Linked DNA regions of Homo sapiens: regions 1 and 2 are each reported to be linked to region 3. Evidence: microRNA targets listed by miRTarBase, many of them from high-throughput screens and not tested one by one. Region 3 holds a microRNA gene; each other region holds the end of a gene's coding sequence.
Evidence for each region. The annotated mature microRNA hsa-miR-212-5p reads ACCUUGGCUCUAGACUGCUUACU and lies in region 3 at 3,233-3,255, opposite strand. An mRNA with a match to its seed (bases 2 to 7 or 8) in the 3' UTR can be bound and repressed. Matches are read on the target gene's strand: a 7mer-m8 pairs with bases 2 to 8, a 7mer-A1 pairs with bases 2 to 7 and ends in A, and an 8mer does both.

Region 1 (7,898 bases), not on the chromosome of region 3:
GGGCGCCTGTAATCCCAGCTACGCGGGAGGCTGAGACAGGAGAATCGCTTGAACCCAGGAGGTGGAGGCTGCAATGACCCAAGATGGCGCTACTGCAGTCCAGCCTGGGCTACAGAGTGAGACTCAAAAAAATAAAAAATACAGAAATTAGCCGGGTGTGGTGGCAGGCGCTTGTAATCCCAGCTACTCCAGAGGGTGAGGGGTACGAGAATCGCTTGAACCCAGGAGGCACAGGTTGCAGTGAGCCATGATTGTACCACGGCACTCCAGCCTGGGCGACAGAGCAAGACTCTGCCTCAAAAAAAAAAAAAAAAAAAAAGTCTGTTCACGGGGGTAGATGGATGGTGGTGGTTAGCAAGGGTAGAGTTGGGGTCATCCGGGGTAGATCCTTGGGTCGAGTGTCAGCCTCACAGAGCACTGGGGCAGGGCAATGTTGTTGGATGTTCTTAGGAGACAGAAGTGCAGAAGAAAGTAGTCCCAGCTACCTGGGAGGCTGGGGCAGGAAGATCGCTTGAGCTCAGGAGTTTAAGGCTGCAATGAGCTATGATTGTGCCACTGCACTCCAGCCTGGGTGACCGACATAGCGAGACCCTGTCTTTAAAAAAACAAAAAACTATGGGCCAGGCGCGGTGGCTGACGCTTGTAATTCCAACACTTTGGGAGGCCAAGGCAGTGGATCACCTGAGGTTAGGAGTTCGAGACCAGCGTGGCCAACATGGTGAGACCCCCCCCCCCGCCACCCCCATCTGTACTAAAAACACAAAAAATCAGCCCGGTGTGGTGGTGCATGCCTGTAATCCCAGCTACTAGGGAGGCTGAGGCAGAAGAATCGTTTGAACCCGGGAGACAGAGGTTGCAGTGAGCCGCGATTGTGCCACTGCACTCCAGCCTGGGTGACAGAGGGAGATGCCCACTCAAAAAATAAAAATAAATAAAAATAAATAAAAATGCACAGGGGTAAGGGTAAATCAGAGCTGGTTAGCTGGTATTATCTAGGGGGCCTGGGAGCTCTTATGGGACAAGATTGAAGCCAGTTCCATGTCGTGTCAGCACAGGGCTCTTGGTCAGAAGGTTTTGGGGCGATTGGCCCCTTTAGGGGATACTCAGGAGGAGAAGCATGGTCTAGTGGGAGGTCAGATGTCAGCCAGGGTGGGCCGGAGTACTTCAGGGATAGAGGTACAACCTGGGAGGTGGACAAGAGGGAGAAGCTGGGCGTGACCCTGTAGGAGGGGCTCTTATCCAGCTGGCGTCAGGGCAGGTCACTGGGACTGCTTAGGGGCAGGAGCACAGGTGAGGGGCATGCGGGAGGCGGTGTCACCCATGGTGAGGCACCAGGGCAGGCTCATGTCTGGAGGGCATCTTGGAAGTAAGAGGGGTGGGCTGGGGGTGTGGGGGGCTGGGGAAAGGGCCACGTCGTGGGTCTAGAGGAGAGCCTGGTTAAAGAGCTTCTGGGTGGGACATTAGGGGCAGGGCCGTGCGGGCAGCAGTTCAGCCGGCAGAGGGCACAGGCGCGGGTATCTCAGGGTGGGAGCATGGCCTTGCAGGGCGGTGTCTGAGGGGCGGGAGCTGGATGTAAAACTATGCGGTCATTTTTCGGTGGGTGGAAAAATGGGAAGAACAGGCGTGGGCGTGGCCCAGCTCGGGGTCAGCTGCTGTGGGCGCGGCCAAGCACAGGGTTGTAGGTCAAGTAACGGGGCAGGGGCGGGGCTAGCGTAGCGTGGGAGGTGACAGGTGTGGGCACCCCGGTGTGGGCGTGGCCCGCAAATGCGGTGGGGACGGGGCCGTGGGCGGGGCATCACAGTAGGTGTGGCCTGTCTCACGTTCCGCCCCTCCCCACGCAGCACGCTGAGCGCCGACGCGGGTCCCGAGTGCTATGAGCTGCAGGTGTGCGTCAAGGACTACTGCTTCGCGCGCGAGGACCGCACGGTGGGGCTGGCCGTGCTGCAGCTGCGTGAGCTGGCCCAGCGCGGGAGCGCCGCCTGCTGGCTGCCGCTCGGCCGCCGCATCCACATGGACGACACGGGCCTCACGGTGCTGCGAATCCTCTCGCAGCGCAGCAACGACGAGGTGGCCAAGGAGTTCGTGAAGCTCAAGTCGGACACGCGCTCCGCCGAGGAGGGCGGTGCCGCGCCTGCGCCTTAGCGCGGGCGGTCGGCCGAGCGGCACTGCGCCTGCGCGGAGGGCGCTGGGCGGGGAGGGACGGGGCTTGCGCCTTGGTGGGACCTCCCCAGGGGCGGGGCTCGGGGGGCTCCACGCCAAGGGTGGGCTGCGCCTACGCCCTTGACTCAGCTTTCCCTTTTGGGGAATTAGGAATGGAGGATGCCCCGCCCTCTCGGGAGGCCACGCCCAAGGGCGCGACGAAGGAAGGAGCCACATCCCCAACTTGAGGCCACGCCCCCAGCACCTAGGGGGCATTTTGAGCTGGGATGGGGGAAACCTCGTCCCTATGGAGGAGGCCACATCCCGGGGCTCTGGTACCGGGAGGCACCACCTCATGTCCCCTGGAAAAGCCATAAGATGGGACCCAGACCCCTGGGACCCCAGACCAATTGCCAAGTATGGAAATCTCAGCTCCCTCGAGGGGGGGCCCTGGGCAAGGGGTAGGGCTCTCTGGAGCGCCCCTCTAGGTGGCCTGGGGACTGGAGGGACCAGGATGCTGGTTGGAGGGCCCCGGAATACCGGAGTCCCTTTAGATATTTGTGCAAAAAATAAATGGGGGGAGGGGGGAGGATGGGATTTCAAAAGCACATGCGCCCTTGGGCGCCCAAACCCTGGGGGCCGAGGGGACGGCTCTGGTTCCCCACGCTGCCCCTACTTCCCTTTGGGAGTTTGCCTCTCCCTCTCCCCCAACAAACCCAGTCCTCATATCATAGAGTTCAACACACCCATTTGACAGATGGCAAAACTGAGGCTTAAAGAGCTGCTTGAGACTTGGCCAAGGTTCCAGGTGCCATACCCTCTGTGCCCCTCCCTTAGGCCTGTGTGCCCCATGGAAGGGTGGGCTGAGATCGGGATGACCTGACACAGCTCCCTATTGCTGCTAATTCCCCCTCGGCCTCCTCCAAGGGGTGGGAATTCCAGGCCAAGACCCCTACTTCGCCTTTCCTTCTCCGGCTGCCAAGCAGGACCTTTGCCCTCAGCCCTTTCTCCTGGGATCTCCATGGGGGATGCCATGAGGGCCTCCCACCACAAAAGAGAATTTGGGATCCCCTGGTCCCAGGTTTCTCCATCCCTTCTTCCTTTTCCAGAATTTTCCAAATAGGAAAGAACAGAAGGAGACCAGAAACTCTAGGGGGGAGAAAGAGAATGAGAGAAAGAGAATGAGAGAGAGAGAAACACAAACACAGTGACACAGTGAGAGCTTAGTCTCCAAGAGCCTATTCATTGATTCAAACACCCAAGCCACAGGATACCTCAGATGGCCCTCTTGCCAGCTGGAAGCTCTTTCTCCAATGAGCAAAGTTACAGTGACCTGGCTGGAGTTACCTGGTGCACATAGGACCTTAGGGGAAAGTTCAGCGTGGACTACACTTGCTCTGGGATCTGCTTTTCCACATGTGTGTATGGCACGCCTTTTTCTGCTGGATTGGGAAGGACAAGATTTTGCTGTGCTAGGGAGAAATGAAAACGGGGTGAGCTGAGTAGCTGGGTTTCTGGAGGATAGAACATCAGATGGGGAGGCTTTCCGAGGTGAAGAATGAGAGGGAACCACTTACTAGAGAGAAAAGAGCTCCAGGCCTGGGGAACAGCACGTGCGAAGGCCAGGAGAGAAGAACTGTTGAAACAACGAGAAGGGTGGCACGGCTGGAGCTGAGCCAGCAAGGGGGATCGTGAGGAGCCTTGGGGTTGGGGAGATCTGCAGAAGCATCAGACCAGGCAGGGCCTCGTACGCAGTCCTGAGGAGTTTTACTTTTATTCTAAGACAGTTGGGGAGCTCCAGGAGCTGTTTTAAGTTGGGGAGAGACTGGATTCCAGCCTGCAAAAGCTGTTTTGTGAAGACTAAAACCAGTGAGGAGAGGTGGAGGTGCTTTGGGGACACTGAAATGGATTCTTGGAAAGATTCTGAAGGCTGTGTTGAAAAGACACCTATAGCTGTGGGGACATGACTATAATCCCAGCATTTGGGGAGACCGAGGCTGGCAGATCACTTAAGGTCAGGAGTTTGAGACCAGCCTGGCCAACATGGCGAAACCCCATCTCTGCTAAAAATACAAAAATTAGCTGGGTGCAGTGGTGCATGCCTGTAGTCCCAGCTACTCAGGAGACTGAGGCGGGAGAATTGTTTGAACCCTGGAGGCAGAGGTTGTAGTGAGTCGTGATCACACAACTGCACTCCAGCCTGGGCAACAGAACAATACTCCATTCCCTCCCCTCTACCCCACCAAAAAAAAAAAAAAATCCTGCCCTTAGATGAGCTCTAGGGCTGCTGAGTACAGTTGTCCCAGTTGCACAGTGCCCAAGGGTTTGGCATTGCTAAGAAGGCCACGTGCAAATCCTAGATATTGAGTGTTGTATGTTTGTGACGTTGGTTTCCCGACATGTGAATGGCCCAAGTGTCTGGAAGAAGTGGCGCCACTTTCTAATTTGCTTGGAGATGTTGCATGTCCCTTAAATTCAGACAGGTGCAGGTAACTGGAGGTTCTGAACCAAAGGTTAAAATGCAAATTCTCATACAGGGTTGGGAAGTTGTAGCCAGGGATAAGCTTATGTGACTGTTATATGGACTGAGGAGCAGATGTGAATTTCGAACCATGACATGGCTGAGGGTAGGGGTCGGGTGGATGGATGATTCAGGGTTGTAACCCATAGAGCCCAAAGGGGAAGTGATCTGTGACCTGGGGTGAGGGTGATCTGGAAGATTTTTGGATGGCTGGAAAGAAATGGGGAAGTCGAGCTGCCTGAGAGAGCCAAGTTATTTCCCAAAAGATTCCTTAGGAGTCTTTCTGTTCAAGACCTCCGTGTGTGTGTGTGTGTGTTTAGGGTTCCCCAGCAATGGCCCAGGCATGTGAAGGAAACAAGCTTCTTCAGGGAATATTTGTTGAATGAGTTTTCCTGACTCCCAGGCTAGAACTGTTTTTGCAATTTCCACCCTCTTTTCTTTCCCCCAGAGAACTCCTATTCGTCCTTCAAAACCCATCACGGAAACCCCTCTTGGAGAAAACCCTCCTTCCTTCCCCTCAGGACTTTCCCAGCCACCGTCTCTCCTCCAGTCCAGCCTGATGCCATGGGACTGGGGGTTTCTCTGTCCAGCTCTGTTTCTCCCAGACTGGGGTCTGAGGACTCTCAGGACCCCCAACTTTACCTAGCACAGGCTGGGCACAAGTGGGTGACAGGGAGTCTACGCCTAGTGGAATTATGTATTGGGGCAGGGTCAGTGTGAGAATACACATCCGCATGCATGTCTGTCCATGTCTGTCCGTACCAACCTTCCCCTTCCACACGGACCTGGGCACATAGGAGGTGTCTGAGCCTGACACATGGGACAGAGAGTGGACATGGCTGAGACACGGACAGAGAAAAGACAAGGAGTCCAGGGGGCTGAAAGCCTTTTGAAATCAGGAAGTTCCTGTATTGGCAGAACAAAGCCCAGAGAGGAGCAGGGCTTTCCTCAACGCCACCCAGCAAGTGGACACAGAGCCCGGCCTTGGATGACACCTCCAGGGTTCTGAACCCTGGACCTCGCTTTATGCAAGGAGCTGGCCCCACATTTCCATGAATCGGGGAAACAGCACAAGAAGGTTGGCCTGTGGCAGGGCAAGGGTTAAAGGGGTGACATTGAGGGATGCCTCAGAGTCAAAGTCCCCTGACCAAGAGGAATAGAGTAGAAAACACAGAGACAGAGGGTGAGATCACGCCCCGATGAGGACGGAGAGAGACAGAGATGGAGAGAGACATAGAGGTGGAAATATACAGAGAAAGATAAATGCAGAGACCAAGGCAGGGAGTGTCGGGGGAAGTAAAGAGGGTGTCCTGAAGAAAGAAGGATCTGTTCACTCTTACCAGTCTGTCCTCGAATGATTTGCATAAAATGAGGAGGTGCCTGTCCACACCCCCAATTCCTCTCTCAGGCCCCAGAGCCTGAGACCTCACCATGCCCCCATCAGAGATGCAAAAAACTAAACACCCAACTAGAAATCCTTGGGACCTCTCTCGGCTGGGATCTCAGAGCCTTTCTGTCCCCTACCCCTACCCCATGTGCTGTCGATTTTGCAGATGGGGACAACCTGGGGCCTCCCGGAACTCTGCCACCCTGGGGAAGTTGGGGGAGGGCCTTAGTCCCGGATCACAACCCCGTCTGCTCCCCAGAATCCTTTCCTAAGAATCGTTGAGGACCAAAGTTGTCTTTGCTGACACGTGTTGCTTTTCTCTTTGCCTTTTATTGTTTCAGAGAAAAATCAAGTTGACTGTGTCAAGTAACACCCCACCCCTTACCCCCGTCCAGCCATAGTGGCTCTCTGGAGACACAGGTCACAGGCGGAGGGTCCCCTGATCATCCCCAACCACACAGCCAGGGGGACTTGACCCCTGTCCACCCCTGTCTCGTGCTCCCTCAGACCCCCACAAACCGGCCAAGCAGTCCGGGGAGGCTTCCCCTCCACACAACTCTTAGCATGTGATTGCAGATGTGAAATCAAAACGTTGTTTGTTTTTTGTTTTGTTTTGATTCTACCCCGTCGGTCCAGTGTCTGCACAGACGCCTTCATTTCTCTGTAAATATGTGACTTGGAACAAATGTTTAACACAAACGAGAAGTGGTCATGAATGCATGGTGTTGAGATGTTTTGCACTATTCTGACTTTTTGGTCTCTGTAAAAATATTTTATTAACAGCAGACATTAAAAAAAGAAAAACCACACACAGCCTTGGACACGTGGTTGCCTCCTCCTTGCATTCCTTTATCAGCAAAAAAACAAAAACAAAAACCTCACGTACGATTAGCACCTACTAGGTAGGCGCAGACTCAGTAGAACACACTGCTTGCCCATGAACGCGGCTCATCCGCAACTGGAGTCATCCCCATTTTACAGAGAAGGAAACTGAAGTACAGAGAGACAAGATCTTGCTCAGATCACATAGCCAGGAAGAGATGGAGCTGGGACTTGAACTCAGAACATTTGCAACCATTGCTTTTTTTTTTTTTTTTTGAGATGAAGTCTCTGTTGCCCAGGCTGGAATGCAGTGGTGCAATCTCAGCTCACTGCAATCTCCACCTCCCAGATTCAAGCGATTCTCCTGCCTTAGCCTCCTGAGTAGCTGGGATTACAGGCGCCCGCCACCTTGCCTGGCTAATTTTTGTATTTTTAGTAGAGATAGGATTTCACCATGTTGGCCAGGCTGGTCGCGAACCCCTGACCTCAGGTGATCCACTCCCTCGGCCTCCCAAAGTGCTGGGATTACAGGCGTGAGCCACCGCACCCGGCCATCTGTTGCCCTTAAGGAAGTTAAGATACAAACACTAGGAATACATGCCCTTAATTCAACCCACACCCCCATGCTTGTTTGGTTTTGTTGGGTTTTTTGGGATCTTCTTGTTTGTTTGTTTTTGAGACAGGGTCTTGCTCTGTCACCCAGGATGGAGTTCAGTGTCACAATCTCAACTCACTGCATCCTCAACCTCCCAGGCTCAGGTGATCCTCCCACCTCAGCCTCCTGAGTAGTGTGCACCACCACACCTGGCTAATTTGTGTATTTTTTGTAGTGATAGGATGTCGCCATGTTGCCCAGACTGCTCTCGAACTCCTCACTTTGGGCAATCCTCTCTCCTCAGCCCTCCAAAGTGTTGGGATTACAGGCGTGAGCCACTGTGCCTGGCCATGTCTGTTTTAAATGTAGCAGCTGGGGCCAGGCGCAGTGGCTCACGCCTGTAATCCCAGCACTTTAGGAGGCCGAGGCGGGTG
Region 2 (7,831 bases), not on the chromosome of region 3:
TGGTTTTTGGTCATGGGAAGTGTTCTCATAAAATTCATTTTAGCTTGTAAAGTTTAAAATCGTCAAAGATAAACTGAAATTGTAATAAAAATTGATAATGCCTCTTGATAGCTTACCAAATATCGGACACTTTACATATTACTTTTACCCTAATCTTTATAATAACCCTTTGAAGCCAGGTACTGCTATTTTTACTATCATACAGATAACAAAATTGGAATTAGGTTGACTTTTCCATGGTCACACAGCTGGGAAACGTCAGAGACTGGCTTTGAACCAAGTCTGACTCTGGAATTCAGAGTTAATCATGTAGTCTTACTGCTACTTTGCTTGCACCAGTGACGCTGGTAAAATAAAGATGTTGGAGTCATTGCAGATTATGTGACATTGGGCCACACGGCCTGGTTCTTTGTGATCCTCTTCATTGCTACAGCTGCTGGCAGCTTAGTTCAGAGGGTCAAAAGAAAGGAGCTGGTTAGTTATCGGCTCCTGATCAAGGATGTTAGTGACACATTCTCAAACTCTCTGGTTTTTAATGTTGCTATAGCTGCAGAAAATAAAAAGAAATACTCTTTAATTTGGGGAGCACATGTTTTAGAGAGGCGAAAACGAACTTCAGTCACATTTCTGGTGGGTTTTTAATTCACCTGGCTTTTTTGAGGGAAAGACTTATATAGTTGGTTTTTTGCTCAGGCTGGAGTGCAGTGGGCAATCGCGGCTCACTGCAAGCTTCACCTCCTGGGTGCAAGCGATTCTCCTGCCTCAGCCTCCCCAGTAGCTGGGATTACAGGCGCCTGCCACCAGGCCCGACTAATTTTTGTATTTTTAGTAGAGACGGGGTTGCACCATGCTGGCCAGGCTGGTCTCAAACTCTCGACCTCAGGCAATCTGCCTGCCTCGGCCCTCAAAGTGCTGGGATTACAGGCTTGAGCCACCTCACCCGGCCTATAATTGGTTTTTAAATCTCTGTGACTTGGCATGCCCATTTAAGAGAGAGGGGACAGTAAAATCATCCGGATCACAATTCAAATGTGTGCTTGAAGGCACTACAAAAAAATAACCAAAAATATGTTAGTAGTGGTTATTCCTAGATGGTAGTGCTATGGCTGATTTTTTTCTTTCAGAAGATATTACTTTAAAATGGGAAAAAAGAAACAACTTTTTATTTTTTTAAATTTTTTATGAGAAAGTGTCAACATCTTTATTGCTAATATAAGCATTTAATGTCAAAGAAATGAAGGTAATTTTACAAACTAAATTTTTGTAAGTACATGAAATTTCTATTTGATTATGTGGTTTTATATCACATTCGTTCAAATGCATTTCTTTCCCTTAGAGGGACTATTCCAACATCACTCCTTTGGAATTATTTCAGTCATCCCTAACATGTGACTACCAAAGACCTTGAAGCTAAACAAACAAAGAAAACAAAATTTCAATGACTCTTAGATGAATGGAATAAGAAGTAGTCATCACATGTCAATTAGGGATGTTTATCTCCAACAAGACACTGTCAAAATGTTTCTTCTGATAAAGCAGTTATGTCAGAGCCTTCAAAAAACACGGGCAGAACAAGAGTACAATAAAAGAAGCGTCTGCAACTTAAGCCGTCCACAGTCCTAAGCCTGATATGCTCAAAGCAAAGCCTCTTTCCCACAAACTAAATTCCATCCATTTGAGCTTTCAGAGATAGATGCCCAAGAGCTATCATTAATATATACAGCATATTGACTCTAGTTGCATCAGTTATGCATGAAGAGTTTAATAACCATCCAGGTCCAAAGGTGGAAGAATACATACACCGGTATGGTAATAGGCAAGAGCAGGCTGTAAAAGCAAAGGCTAGCTGTGCAAGTGCAGCCCTGTGGGAAGTTTTCTTCTACAGAGGCTGAGTGGAACAGTCCTGCTAAATAAACCAGTGGAATAAGAACAGTCAACGTAGAAAGAGACAGAAAGATTCTTCTCTTCCGCTTATTACTTGCCACTGTGTTTTAAAAGGTATATGGTACTAAGAAGAGTTGGCTGTTTTATTTTTTTAAATTATGAACTAGCGCTGCTCCACTTCTTGCTTCTTTGATGTGTCATCCTAGCTGCCTAATATGATAATATTAGGAATCCCATCAATGATTGGATAAGCTATTCTCAACTCTTCATTAATCAATTCATTTGTTGATGCTTCATATCTGAGCGGCTTCTTGGAGAGCGGGCACACCAGGAACTCCAGCAGCGCCGGATCGAAGGCGCGGGGCGGCTCCTGAGTCTTCTCGCTCCTGTCGGCCAAAGGCCGTGACCCCGACGCGTGCAGGCACCTACGGGCGACCGCGGACGGCGGCGCGCGCGTTCCCCGCAGCGCTGAGGCGAGCCTGCCGCGCGCTCCGCTCAGCGTGGTCTGGCAGCCGGAGACCAGGCCTCACTGCGCCTCCAACAGCCAGGGTCGAGCCCCTGGCTCCCCGTTCGTCCAGGCCAGCTCAAGAAACAACTTTTTCTTTCATGTTTTTTGTATGTGTTTTTTTAGGTTATGGTCAGTGAGGTTTAGCCACAAGAGATATCACAGGAGAGACACAGGAAAAAAAGTTGTAATATACTCACAGGTCCTAGAGAGACCAGTCACTGCATGCTGAGAGGGGGTCACATGGGAGGGGGCTCAGCCAAGCAGGTGGGGAGCGGAGAGGCCTAAGACATGGGCAGGAGCCTTTGGGTCAGGGAGAAGCACACAAGAAAAAGAGAATTTCACTGGTGCATTTAAATGTTACTAGGTCATGGGCAAGGTAGCAAGGGAAACTTGTGGCAGGGGCCACCCATATCACACTGGGCCAGGTGCTCACAGCCTGTTTGTGGAGATGTTGAGGCAGCAAGAAAACCGGAAGTTTAAAACGTACACTACAAATGTAAAAACATACACTGCAAAATCTCACCCACAACACCAGTCAGAACTTCATCTCCTTTTTGTATTTACTCTTTGGCCAATGAGTAGTTAATTTACACCACTGAGTGAAGAACCATGTTTTGACTTTAAATGCCAAGGACAGTTTGTTTTGAACTCTTTAGTAGTCTTTTAAATGGTACAGAAAAAGATGGAAAAATAGCTTATGTTGGGCTTCTGGATGTGACCCATCTTTACCAACCATTTTTCTTATCTTGTCCCTTAGTTTTCTTTGCCATGTTTAAGCACTTTACTGTTGCATGAAATGCATTACTTTCAGTTCTACTAAATTAATATTTTAAAGTTCGTTTTTCCTTCCTAATTTCTATATTCCAAAATTCTGGGACTGCTTCATTGCTCAAGGTAGAGAAATGCAGGGCCCTGCCAACACTATGGAAGACAAAAATAACTGAATCAATTCTGGCTCTCTTCTTTTTATTCCTGCCTTCAATAAGTCAGGTTACATACTATGGCTTATATTTAATTGTTTGTGTCTAGGCTCAGATTTTTGATATTTGTTAGTTTTTGTTACTGAAAGTATTTACATAAATAACGTACATTATATTATTTCCCATATCTTACATAGTCCCCTTGTATATGAAATAAGAACGAATTCATCTCACAAGGATTTTCTTTTGAGACGGAGTCTCACTCTGTCACCCAGGCTGGAGTGCATGGCCTGATCTCAGCTCACTGCAACCTCCACCTCCCGGGTTCAAGCGATTCTCCTGCCTCAGCCTCCCAAGTAGCTGGGATTACAGGCATCTGCCACCATGCCCAGCTAATTTTTATATTTTTCATAGAGATGGGGTTTCACCATGTTGGCCAGGGTGGTCTCAAACTCCCAACTTCAAGTGATCTGCCTGCCTTGGCCTCCCAAAGTGCTGTTATATAGGCGTGAGCTACCGCGCCTGGCCTTACAAGGATATTAATTGCCCTGGTTTTATTTTCGTTCTCCCATGTCCGTATCAACTCAATGTACTTTCCTAATACTATGATCTTGAGGTAAAACCCAAGTTTTTGAATAGGAAAACAATAATTGTACTAAAAACTTCAGGAAACAAACTCTTGTTTTATGCCTTCTTGCAATCTTTATTAAAAGAGGCTCAGAAAAATAGATAGAGCACATGTAAACTTCCTTCGTTCTAATGCTGTAAGACCTCTACATTTCTAGATGGTCTATACAGATACGTGAAATATTTATAGTTAAAATACAAAACACTTTTTCAGTGTGCAAATACTGAAACCTGTTTGTTGAAATACAGTTTGTTTCTAATCATATCAAGGTTCTACAATTAATGAAGGATTTCAAAAACATACAAAATTACACCAATCTGATCTTATTATGCCCTGGTATTCCTGCGTCTCCTAAAAAATGGTTGTAGACACACTAGGCAAAGTTTAGCTCGTCTGGTTTTTTTTAGACTTAAAACACATTTTTATCCAGTATAACATAAAGTATAGATATTTCTCCCCATTTAACATAAAAAATATCTATTTTGAGGGTTGTTCTCAGCCTACCATTGGTTAAGGATAATTAATTTACTTCTTATTGAATGGATTATCTAGATTGAGACAAAAAGCAACCAGTCATTCTCTGTTCTGTGCTTATCCCGTCCTTTCCCTCGTTTCTTCAGTGTGGTGGTTTTTTATATTAGCAGTATTGGTTTAATAGAGCAAAATTTCTTTCTGACCACAAAAACTGCTGAGCTTCAAATAACTAATCTTGAGAAAATACGAATGTGGTTACCTTCATCTTAATATAGTTACTGATATGCTCTTCAAAAACAGTGGTTGGACTTGTTGGAAGTTAGAACTGGACTTGCTAAGGAAGTTAATGTTGCTCTGGGTTAAATGGGAAACATATACTCTGTTGAAAGAAGAAATGTTATAGAAACTAGTAACAGAATAATAAAAGTCCCTTGTATGTCTCCATTTCGGGAGAACTTTTGCTTTTGGAAAATTTAGGGTGTTCCTAGTATGGACTTTGGGTTTCTGCTTTGTCTGCTTGTTAAAGTATCTGTATTCGATAACAGGGACTTCCTTGCACACATGTGAGGGAGATAAATATCTCAGAACTAATGCATTAGCAAGGTGACCACTACAAAGAAAAATGGTACAAACTCTCAAGACATAAAGTTAGCTTTTTTTTTTTTTTTTTTTTTTTTTTTTGAGAGAGTCGCTCTCTGTTGCCCAGGCTGGAGTGTAGTGGTGCAATCTCGACTCACTGCAACCTCTGCCGCCTGGGTTCAAGCAATTCTTCTGCCTCAGCCTCCTGAGTAGCTGGGATTACAGGCATGTACCTCCACACCTGGCTAATTTTTGTATTTTTAGTAGAGACAGGGTTTCACCATGTTGGCCAGGCTGGTCTCGAACTCATGCCCTCAAATGTTCCACCCGCCATGGCCTCCCAAAGTGCTGGGATTACAGGCGTGAGCCACCATGCCCAGCCAAAGTTTTAGCATTTTTTGAGGCACTCAAAAGTTGAGAGCATCAGAGTCACCATGGGTATAGAATTCAGATTGGGATTCGTAATCATGATCTTGGTGATTGGAACTTGGCAGAACAGTGACAGTATTACATTCTGGGAAATTTCACTGAGTATAAAGGAAGACTTAAGTCTTCTGAAGAGATAAGTAATGGCTCATTAAAATCTAAAAGAAATAGGAGTAATATTGTGAAAAGATTTTATGGAAAGACTTCATACCTTTTTTCTGAGTCAATGTTTCTGACCTTCAGATAAGGTCTTTCCAGCCTATACTGTACTTGGCCATTGTAGTAGTTTTCTGGAGAGCCTGTGGGCAGTTACTATTGTAGATGGCTATGGATGGGACATGGACTGCATTTTACCTACTCTGGTCCAATGTTTTCTATGTACCATGACAAACATTACAAGCAATCCTTTTCTAAATAAGCCTGTTTAGAATAGAACTAAGAGCACATGGAAGCTACTGTGAATAACTTAGTTAAAATGTCTTTTTTTTTTTTTTTTTTTTTTGAGACGGAGTCTTGCTCTGTTGCCTAGGCTGGAGTGCAGTGGCGCCATCTCAGCTCACTGCAAGCTCCGCCTCCCGGGTTCACGCCATTCTCCTGCCTCAGCCTCCGGAGTAGCTGGGACTACAGGCACGTGCCACCACGCCTGGCTAATTTTTTGTATTTTTAGTAGAGACGGGGTTTCACCATGTTAGCCAGGATGGTCTCCATCTCCTGACCTCGTGATCCGCCTGCCTCAGCCTCCCAAAGTGCTGGGATTACAAGCGTGAGCCACCGCACCCAGCCAGTCAAAATGTCTTCTTATGGAAATGCAATGGACTGGATGACAAATATAAAACAAACACACACTTGGGAAATTGCTTCAAAATTAAAGGGTGGGCAATTTAAAAGGACAGGAAATTGAGTGATTGATGTGTGTGTACGGTAGCTACGTTTTTATCAGCTTACACTAACTTCCATTAAATAGCCTTCCTCTCTAATACTTAGGTTCTAAACCCTGTAGGGGTAACAGATTTTGCTTAGTAATCAAATAGAACCTCAGATCATGTCACCCACAGAAAGAGGGAAGTAGAAAAATGAGACACTCCCTTATTGATCACACAGAGCTTTCTGTATGTCTGCCAGAAAGTATTCTGGGTTAAATAATTATGTCACAAAATATGAGATAAGTATGCAAATATATGTAAGGATAAGGTGTTCATAAGTGTCTCCCTCATTCAGATAGAAATTTCTAGGTATTTCAGGAATACTATTGCCAGTTGCTTAGGGAATATTCTCCCCTCATTTTATTTTCAGGAATAATATAAATACTGCATACTACTATATAGCAAGTGTATGAAAAAGTGGGTCTGAAGACACTTGTACAAGCCTTAAGTATTACTGTGCATTCTGAGTTTTAGGAGATGGGAAGATAGATTTTTCTGTTTCTGCAGAGGATGGGCTTAGCAAATTAATTATCCTGCTACTTCCCCTTCAAGATTTAATAATGGAATTAGGGAGTGTCCATTATTTTGTATGAATGAAAAAACATTACATTTTAGCCTCCAAATGAAGAAAAACAAGTACCAAGTTTCTCTGTGATTTCATTAAAGCAAACTGAGTTCTCAAATCTTACTCTCTCTAACCCAAAACAAAGCTGGTCTGGTTCTAATGGTGTTTTCCAAAACAGAAAATCCTCCTCGCTACTATTTCATTTAAAAACTGACCCCAAACCACAACCCAATTTACATGCTATCTATCTATCTTTGTTATCCACATATAAAATTCTCACAGCCAGCAAGGCAACTTAAAAGGGTTTCCAAAGAAATAAGCTCAACTCCATATTGACAGAATTATTCCTAGCCGTTATTTTGACATAAATTTCAGTATCTAAATATCGCAAACTCTGTAGTTTCTAATATTTTCCACATAGAAGTTTCTAATATTTTCCACATAGTACCAACAGCTGCAAATCCAAGATATGAAAGATGTGTACTTATTCAAATGTGGTCTTTACCATCTGTCTAAAGTTGGCTGACAGGTGTTATATTCACAAACACCGTGCTTTTGTGTGCGGGTTACAATCTAAATCCTTTCCACGAAGGAAATACGTTGCAAAATTGATGTCTCAAGGCCACTGAAGTGACATTATAACTTCAGTCAAGCATTAAGAAGTTCATCATCTGAGTGTCCAATAGCATCTGGGTTTGAAAGTGGATCCAAGTCTGCAAACAGATTGAACCAGGCTGACATGTCTTGGTTGCCATTGTTGGGGGCTATTAAAAAAGAAAAAAAATACATTAAAGAGATTCAGTTTTGAAATCATGTTTTTGTACCATATTTATGATTTTGAAGTAGGTGCTTCTTTTGGATTAAGAAAAAATTAAGATAACTGACAATAATCTATCAACTATAGTCCCTTTAAGATTTTTTTTT
Region 3 (7,898 bases):
AAACTACAAAAATTGGCTGGGGGTGGTGGCACACACCTGTAGTCCTAACTACTCAGGAGGCTGAGACAGGAGAATTGCTTGAACCTGGGAGGCGGACGTTGCAGTGAGCCGAGATCATGCTACTGCACTTCAGCCTGGGCAACAGAGCAAGACTCCATCTCAGAAGAAAAAAACAAATAAAATTATATATATATAACACATATATATTTTATATATATTAGGCAATAAATATATATAGCTTAAACCTTACAACTTCATGTTTAATCTCACAACTTCATGAGGTAGGTACCATTATTATTATTATTATTTGAGACGGAGTGTCACTCAGCCACCCAGGCTGGAGTTCAGTGGCACGATCACGGCTCACTGCACCTCCGTCTCCTGGGTTCAAGTGATTCTAGTGCCTCAGCCTCCCAAGCAGCTGGAATTACTGGCAAGCACCACCATGGCTGGCTAATTTTTTGTGTTATTAGTAGAGACGGAGTCTGACCATATTGGCCAGGCTGGATTATTATTAAGACAGGGTCTACCTCTGTCACCAGGTGCAGGATCATGGCTCACTGCAGCCTCGACCTCTTCGGCTCAAGTGACCCTCCCGCTTCAGCCTCCTGAGTAGCTTAGCTGAGACTACAGGTGCCACCTATCACACTGGCTTTTTTTTTTTTAAGACATGGGGTCTCACTATGTTGCCCAGGCTGGTCTCGAATTTCTGGGCTCAAGCAGTCCTCCAGCCTCTGCCCCGCCCCGCAAAATGGTGTGATTACAGGCATGAGCCATGTCTCCCAGCCCTAAATAATGATTTTTTTTTTTTGAGACAGGGTCTCACTCTGTCATCCAGGCTGGAGTACAGTGGTGCAATCACAGCTCACTGCAGCCTCAACCTCCCAGCCTCAAGCAATCCTCCCACCTCAACTTCCCAAGTAGCTGGGACTACAGGTGTGCACAACTAATTTTCTTTCTTTTCTTTCCTTTCTTCTTTCCTTTCTTTCTTTTTTGTAGAGATGGGAGTCGCATTGTATTGCCCAGGCTGGTCTCGAACTCCTGGGCTCAAGAGATCCTCCCACCTATGCCTCCCAAAGTGCTGGGATTACAGGCGTGAGCCACTGTGCCCTGCCCTAAATGATTTCTAAGATGCTAAACAACCCTGACGTACGGTCAATCCTCTGGTTCTTTCCCCTCTGACCACATTCTGACCTCTTCTCAGAATATCCCAACCATTTCTGTTTTCCACCTCTGATTCCACCTTGGATTCCTAGAGCTCTTAGGAGAGAGAACCCCCTTAGCAAGGAACCTCTCAACAGCCCCAGGCCCAGAGTGAACCCGGGAGGCGGAGGTTGCAGTGAGCCGAGATAGTGCCACTGCACTCCAGCCTGGGCGACAGAGCGAGACTGTCTCAGAAGAAAAAAAATAAAAGTATATGTATGTATAACATATATATAATATAGATTATATATATATTAGACAATAAATATATATAGCCTAAAGCTCAAGGTGTACCCCCCACATCCCGTTCATTCTGCCTAAGTGCACAGAGCTGGGGTCCCCTCCCAACACCACCCCTTCACAAACATGTAGTAGCCTAACAGAATACTTAAGATCAAAATAACATTCTGCTGTTTTTGGATTTTTACTTACATGATCCTATTTAATCCTCACAGTGCACCTGCCGAGGAGAAGAGATTATTATCCCGTTTTACAGAAAGCTCAGAAACAGAATATGGCCCCTTAACCACCAGTTGCTGATAATGCCAGGTTGGACCTCTGGCTTCCCAGAGCACTACACCCAGCAGTCCACTGCAGTCCACCCACTGACATCCCCTGGAACCCAGAAGCAAGTGCGTTTTAATCTGCAAGACCTCGGGGCCCTGGGGAGGTGGGATGGCTAGCATGTGGGTGTTGATTAACTGGGAAACCGGCACGAGTGTCTTAGAAGTACTTCACAAAGGAGCCGGGTGGGGAGTGAAGGAGGGGGTGGGGCGTGAGACGTTAAGAAAAATTGGATTAACGTGTCGTGGGCTGGGTTGCATTAACCATTCCCAACACTATCTCTGGGGAAGTCTCACACCTGATATTCAATAGACATCCCCTGTAGTGGGTGATGTTGGCAGAGGCAGGCGACATATACAATAATATTTTTAGAGATCCTTGTTCACACTTCATCCGCACCAGAGGACTTCAGCCCCTGTGGTATTCACTCCTCTTTAGGGCTAATTTGAGAAACTGTCTCAGATTGGAATCCAGCACCTAGAGATAGGCTGAGGTGAGCAGGCTGATCTGTTCAGACGCTTCGCGGACCAGGTTAACTTTACAAGCTCATTGGCTTCCAGAGGGTTGGGGACCCTTCTTATCCTCCTAGCTCAGAGGGAAAGATTCAAGAGTTTACTCTTCGCCCAATGCCCACTTCAGCTAGGGGTTCCTGGAAGAACGGGGCTGTGGAGTATCTCAGAAAACTTTCCTCCCTCTACTGTCTTCAGGCCCCAGGAGACAAACCTCCTTCCAAGCCTCCTGGTCCCAGTGGCTTCCCTCTCACCGAAATCGAAAGAACCCGAGTCCCAGCCCGACCCCTTCTCTCGCCGAGCCCTGGCTGGGATACCTTGGCCGGGAGGACAGGACGGCCTCAGGCTGGCCGCCAGACGCACTCCGCAGGACGCGCGCGCTCGAGCCTCGGTGGACTCAGCCGCCGGCCCCGGGAGGCCGCCTCCCTGCGCAGCACCTCCTGCCACCCGCGCGGGCACGTGGGATCTTGACTCGCCGCCCCCGCCTCCTTCTGCTCCGCGTCCCCAGCCCGCGGCTCGGGGCGCGGCGTGGCGCGGCGCGTGGGCGTGCTGCGGGGCGACCATGGCTGTAGACTGTTACCTCCAGTTCCCACAGTAACAATCGAAAGCCACGGTTGCCCTGGAGACGCGGGGGCGGGGCGCGCGGACGGCGCCGGCGCGGGGCGGGCTGACGTCAGGGCCGCGGGGGGGCGGGCGGGGCGGCGGGGGCTGAGGAGCGCGCGTGGGCCACCGCCCCTCGCAGCCCCTAGGGACCCGGACGGGGCGGCCCGATGGCGGCGCCTGCGTTGATCAGCACCGCGGACAGCGGCGGCGCAGGCAGCGGGCCGGGGGCGGGGCCCTGAGGGACGGGGACTGGGGGTCCCCGGGCGCGGCGGCGGCGGCCGGGGCCGCGGTCCTGGGGCGGGGCCAGGCGTCGGTGGCCGTGACTGGAGACTGTTACTGAGGGCGGCCCGGGCAGTAAGCAGTCTAGAGCCAAGGTGCCGGCGCGCTGTCCGGGCGGGGTGCCCCGGTCGCCCCGGCTGCCCCGGCTGGGGGCTCTGCTGCTCCGCCTCCCCTGCGTCTCCCGCCCTGCCCCGCCCGGCGCTCGCGACCAGGCACGCGGCCCCTGACGTCAGAGGGCCGTGACGTCAAAGATGTCCCAGAGGGGGCACTTCCGGCGGGGGCGTGGGGGCGGGGCGGGACCTGGGAGGCCCCGCCCCCCCGGTCCTGAGAGGACAGCTCCGCTCGCAGAGGCGGGAAGCCGTGGGCGCCGCGGGACCCGCTGGACGGGACCTGCCGGGAAGGGGCGCCCGACGCCATGCGGGGCGGGGGTCCCAGGAGGGCCGGGGAAGCGGGGGTGGGCGTCCGTCTCTCGCCTGCACCCCCGCTCAGCCGGCCCGGGCAGCGAGGCTGAGTCACCGCGCCGCAGGGAGGGAGAGGAGGGGGCGCGTCTCCTGGGGCGCCAGCACCTTCGCCTCACTTTCCTGGGAGAATGGCGCAGGAGCCCCAAGAAAGCCGGGGGGGGGTCTCCGAGGTCGGTCCTCCACTCGATGCTCCTCCGAAGTAGCTGCGTGTCCATCGGGCGCCGGCAGGTGCTGCGCGGGCTCGTGTCGTCTCTGGCCCCGGCTCCGCAGCCGCGAGGGGACCCCGGTGCCCCCCGTCCGCCCCCATCCCCACCCCGGAGGGGCCGCCCCACCCGCCGCCTGCCCGTCCCCTCCTCGTCCTCCCGTCCGTGTCCGCACATCTGTCCCTCCGCGGCTGGTCCGTCCCGCTTACCTGGCGGGCCGCGTCGCCACTGCCCGGTCGCCTCCCGCAGCCTGGCCGGCGCGGCGGCTTTTATAGGCGCGCGTAGTACTCGTGCGGCGGCTCATTCATGCGGCCGCGGCTCCTACACACTGACGCGCTGCCGACGTCAGCGGGGAATTTAGGAAATGGGAAAAGGGGCTATTTATAGTGGCGAGGCGGGGGGTGGGGACCGAGGCGACCGGGAGGGGAGGAGGGGGCGCGGAAGCGGCGGCGGGGTAGGGGGAGCCGCGCCCCTGCCCAGCCGACAAGGGGTTAACTTTCCGGAACCGCGGGCCTGGGGCCGGGGAGGCGGCGCGGAGGGGCGCGGCGGGCCCTTCGAGCTTATTCACGCTCTCCTTCCGGAGCCCCGCGGCTCCTGGGGGTCTTCACGTGGCAGCCCCTTCCCCCTCCTCAGTTCCTGGACCTGACGTTTCTGCCGTCACACCCCGCAAGGCCACTGCGGTGTCGCCACCCTCTCGTCCTGCAGGGTGGGCAGGAGAGGAAGCTGGACTCCCGTGGGGGCCTGGGGCGCAGCGAGGGCTGTGGCGTCGGGGGCCGGGAGAAGAAGAGTAGGGGAGCCCAAAGTAGCCCAGGAGTCTTTAGCGGAGGAACCTGGGCCTGGGAGGGAAGGCCCAGCGGGGATTCAGGTACCACCCAGGAGCTGGAGACCCGAGGGACGGCAGAGAAGTTGGGGAAGGTGGGCCAACCTCCCCAGAAATGATGAGCAACGGGATCCTCTATGAGGGAGCTGGGGGAACGCGCCAGAGGTAGGGGTGAGAGGAATGGGCAGCCTCAGCAAGGGAGAGAGGAAAGGCTGTCAGTGCCACGCTCCAGAGCCTGGCATCCAGGACCCACCTTCGGACCATTTGTGGCACGATGGACGCTCCCAGAGCTCACGTTAGGGTAATAGAGAGTGAAGGAGACCAGCAGCTTGGCCAAGAGGGGCCCCCAGGGGATGAGGAGGACGGTTTCCTGGAGAAGTTAATGTTCCCGGAGACCAGAATTGGCAGGGAGAGCCCATGACTTGTGGGGCAGTTCCCCTGGTTGGGAGCGGGGAAATGCATGGTCCTGGCCCAGCCTGGCTCCATCGAGATGGAGGAAGGGTCTAAATGAGAGGAGTGTGTTCAGACGAGGAGCTGGACCAGGATGGGGAGGGCTGTGCAAGGCATGGCCGGAAGAGCGGGGCAGGGAGAGAAAGGTCGAAGAGTGAAGTGCACAGGAGGGCAAGGCGGTCCTCACCCTGCCTGGGCTGGGGCAGGGCTGTGAGACCCTCCCTTACAGAAGCAATGAGGGCTTGAGGAGGGGGTTAGGGGCCTGGGCTGGGGCAGGGCTGTGAGACCCTCCCTTACAGAAGCAATGAGGGCTTGAGGAGGGGGTTAGGGGCCTGGGCTGGGGCAGGGCTGTGAGACCCTCCCTTACAGAAGCAATGAGGGCTTGAGGATGGGGTTAGGGGCCTGGGCTGGGGCAGGGCTGTGAGACCCTCCCTTACAGAAGCAATGAGGGCTTGAGGAGGGGGTTAGGGGCCTGGGCTGGGGCAGGGCTGTGAGACCCTCCCTTACAGAAGCAATGAGGGCTTGAGGAGGGGGTTAGGGGCCTGGGCTGGGGCAGGGCTGTGAGACCCTCCCTTACAGAAGCAATGAGGGCTTGAGGAGGGGGTTAGGGGCCTGGGCTGGGGCAGGGCTGTGAGACCCTCCCTTACAGAAGCAATGAGGGCTTGAGGATGGGGTTAGGGGCCTGGGCTGGGGCAGGGCTGTGAGACCCTCCCTTACAGAAGCAATGAGGGCTTGAGGATGGGGTTAGGGGCCTGGGCTGGGGCAGGGCTGTGAGACCCTCCCTTACAGAAGCAATGAGGGCTTGAGGATGGGGTTAGGGGCCTGGGCTGGGGCAGGGCTGTGAGACCCTCCCTTACAGAAGCAATGAGGGCTTGAGGATGGGGTTAGGGGCAGTAAGTTAACTTGGGGAGCGGATGTGGGGGAACGCTGAAGAATAAAGACTGTGGGCACAGCAGACCCCTGGGGCAGGTTAGCAATGCACAGACTCCACTGCACAAGATACATGGGGCGGAGGGGCTCTTTGGAAGTCGGGGGTGGGGGATCTGACTCTATCAAAAAGAGAAAAGATAAAAGAGATGGGGTCAGAGAGGCCCTGCATAGTCTGGATTTGGCCTACTAGAGCTCCAGTTTTCTTGCCGCTAGCCTTTGTTCCAGGGATTCTGTTATTCACAAATGCCTTCCTGCTCGGTAGAAGAACTCCTATTCATCCGTCAAAGCCCAGCTCTAGGAGCACTTATGAGGAGCCTCTCCACCTCCCCTCAACACTCCGTAACTTCCACCTCAGGCCGCAGCACGTCCCTCGGGCGAGATGTCGGGGTCCGCCTTCCCTAGAGACCGGCAGCTCCGGAGGCCTCCGTTTTCCTCTTTGGGACCTCACTGCTTCTAAAGTGAGGATGCTATGGGGAGACATGGGAGAGGGAGTGGGTAAGATGGATCCAGAACATGGGGCGGACTCAGGCAGCGGCGGGAATCAGGCGGACTCGTTTGGACCGAAGCCTCCGCCAGGCACCGAAGCCGTGAAGTCGCCTGCGCAGCAAAGGGAGCCTCCGGGGGGCGCCCGAGACCTTGGTGTCGCTCGGGGGCCGCTGGTAGCCGCGCCCGCTGCCCCTCGCCCGGTGACTCAGCCGGTACCTCTGGCGGGGCCATGGGGGCCAGAGGACAGCGCGGGGGGCGGCGAGCGCGGTTGCTAAGCTCTCCAAGGCCTCGGAGGGACAGGATCTGGGCGCACCTCACCGGTTGCCATGGTAACGCAGCGCCCCAGCCCCTCGCGCTCCGCGGTGGAGGGAGGCGCAGCCAATCGGAAGCGGCGGAGTTCTCGGGGACCCCCCCCCCCCCCGCTCCACGCCGTGTGTGGGCGGGGGTCAGGAGGTGCGGGGCGGAGGCGGAGCGTGGGCCGCGGAGATCCGGCGTTCGCAGGAGGCTTGGTGCGCGGCGGGGCTGCACGGGGCCACTTCCGGAGTAGTACTGCGAGCAGCGGCGCGACAGTGCGGGGTCCCCTTTCTCCCAGAAGAGACGTCACCCACACAAACCTGACCTTCACGTGGGGCGCGGGACCTTGCGGGGTCCCAGCCGCAGGCGCCCCTGTTGTTTCCTTCGGGCGGGTGGGTTGGAGAAGAAGTCCACGCGGGATTCTTCAAAACGGCGTACAGGGGGATTCTAGGGCCCCATGGTTACTTCTTTGGACCCCCCGGAGGCGCTGTCCAGCCACTTCCAGTCGCCCTGATGACTCGTCGTGGGTTCCTTTAGGAGACCCGAAAGTTCAGGGCGGGCTGTGTGGGTAACACCTCTGCCCAGGTTCCCGGAGGGCCCTACGTGGCTGCCCCTGGAGTATCCCAGAGCGCTAGGGCTGCGGGAAGGGGCGGGTGTGCTTCTGGAAACATGAGCGCCTGTTAGTATCAGTGCCTGGATAGGGCTGGGGACAAATCAGTTTATGCCGCGCACACCGAATCCATGCGCCTGAGTGAGGGTGGGTGTGTTGGGGAGTGCGTCCAAGTGGACAGTGCCGTACAGTAATGTCTACGGGGAGTTCCAGGAGAGCTCGGCTACTCCTGCGCAGGATAACCTCTCCCCCACCACCCGAGTCCCGTGCTCGCGGGCAGGACTTTTCCGAACTGGGGCTGTGTGCCTAGAAATACGTACATGGGAGCGCTCAGCTCAAAGCCCCAGGGTTTCTGGGACTCGCGTGTCCGGGGTCGGGGTCCCAGGTGGGTACAGGTGGGAGGGCGAACCTGCGGGTAGGGTGGGCCCCTCCCCGCGGGCTCAGCATCTGTGCGCCTCCAGCTCAGGTGCGCGGGAGGAAGGCAGC

Region 1: miRTarBase lists UNC13A as a target of hsa-miR-212-5p. Seed matches in the 3' UTR shown: 7mer-m8 at 2,255-2,261 and 7mer-m8 at 2,935-2,941.
Region 2: the mRNA of ICA1L is a reported target of hsa-miR-212-5p. Seed matches in the 3' UTR shown: 7mer-m8 at 3,790-3,796.

What each region holds. Positions count from the first base shown.
Region 1 is chr19:17,600,298-17,608,195 of GRCh38, reverse strand. UNC13A (unc-13 homolog A) reads left to right here. Exons shown (of 44, transcript NM_001080421.3): 44 at 1,842-6,860. The coding sequence ends at 2,142. Among named protein-coding and RNA genes, the nearest start is that of COLGALT1, 49 kb to the right of the region's middle. RefSeq lists silencers at 1,536-1,755, 2,126-2,385 and enhancers at 1,470-2,374, 2,375-3,279.
Region 2 is chr2:202,771,978-202,779,808 of GRCh38, forward strand. ICA1L (islet cell autoantigen 1 like) reads right to left here. Exons shown (of 13, transcript NM_001288622.3): 13 at 1,199-7,671. The coding sequence ends at 7,556. It also overlaps the pseudogene PIGYP1. Among named protein-coding and RNA genes, the nearest start is that of ICA1L, 96 kb to the right of the region's middle.
Region 3 is chr17:2,047,096-2,054,993 of GRCh38, forward strand. It overlaps MIR212 (microRNA 212), which reads right to left and starts at 3,285; the gene lies at 3,176-3,285. It overlaps MIR132 (microRNA 132), which reads right to left and starts at 2,913; the gene lies at 2,813-2,913. LOC124903896 (a long non-coding RNA gene) reads right to left here and starts at 2,854. Exons shown (of 2, transcript XR_007065576.1): 1 at 2,066-2,854; 2 at 1,612-1,663. RefSeq lists silencers at 2,609-3,408, 3,419-3,568, 6,572-7,041, 7,792-7,898 and an enhancer at 4,114-5,009.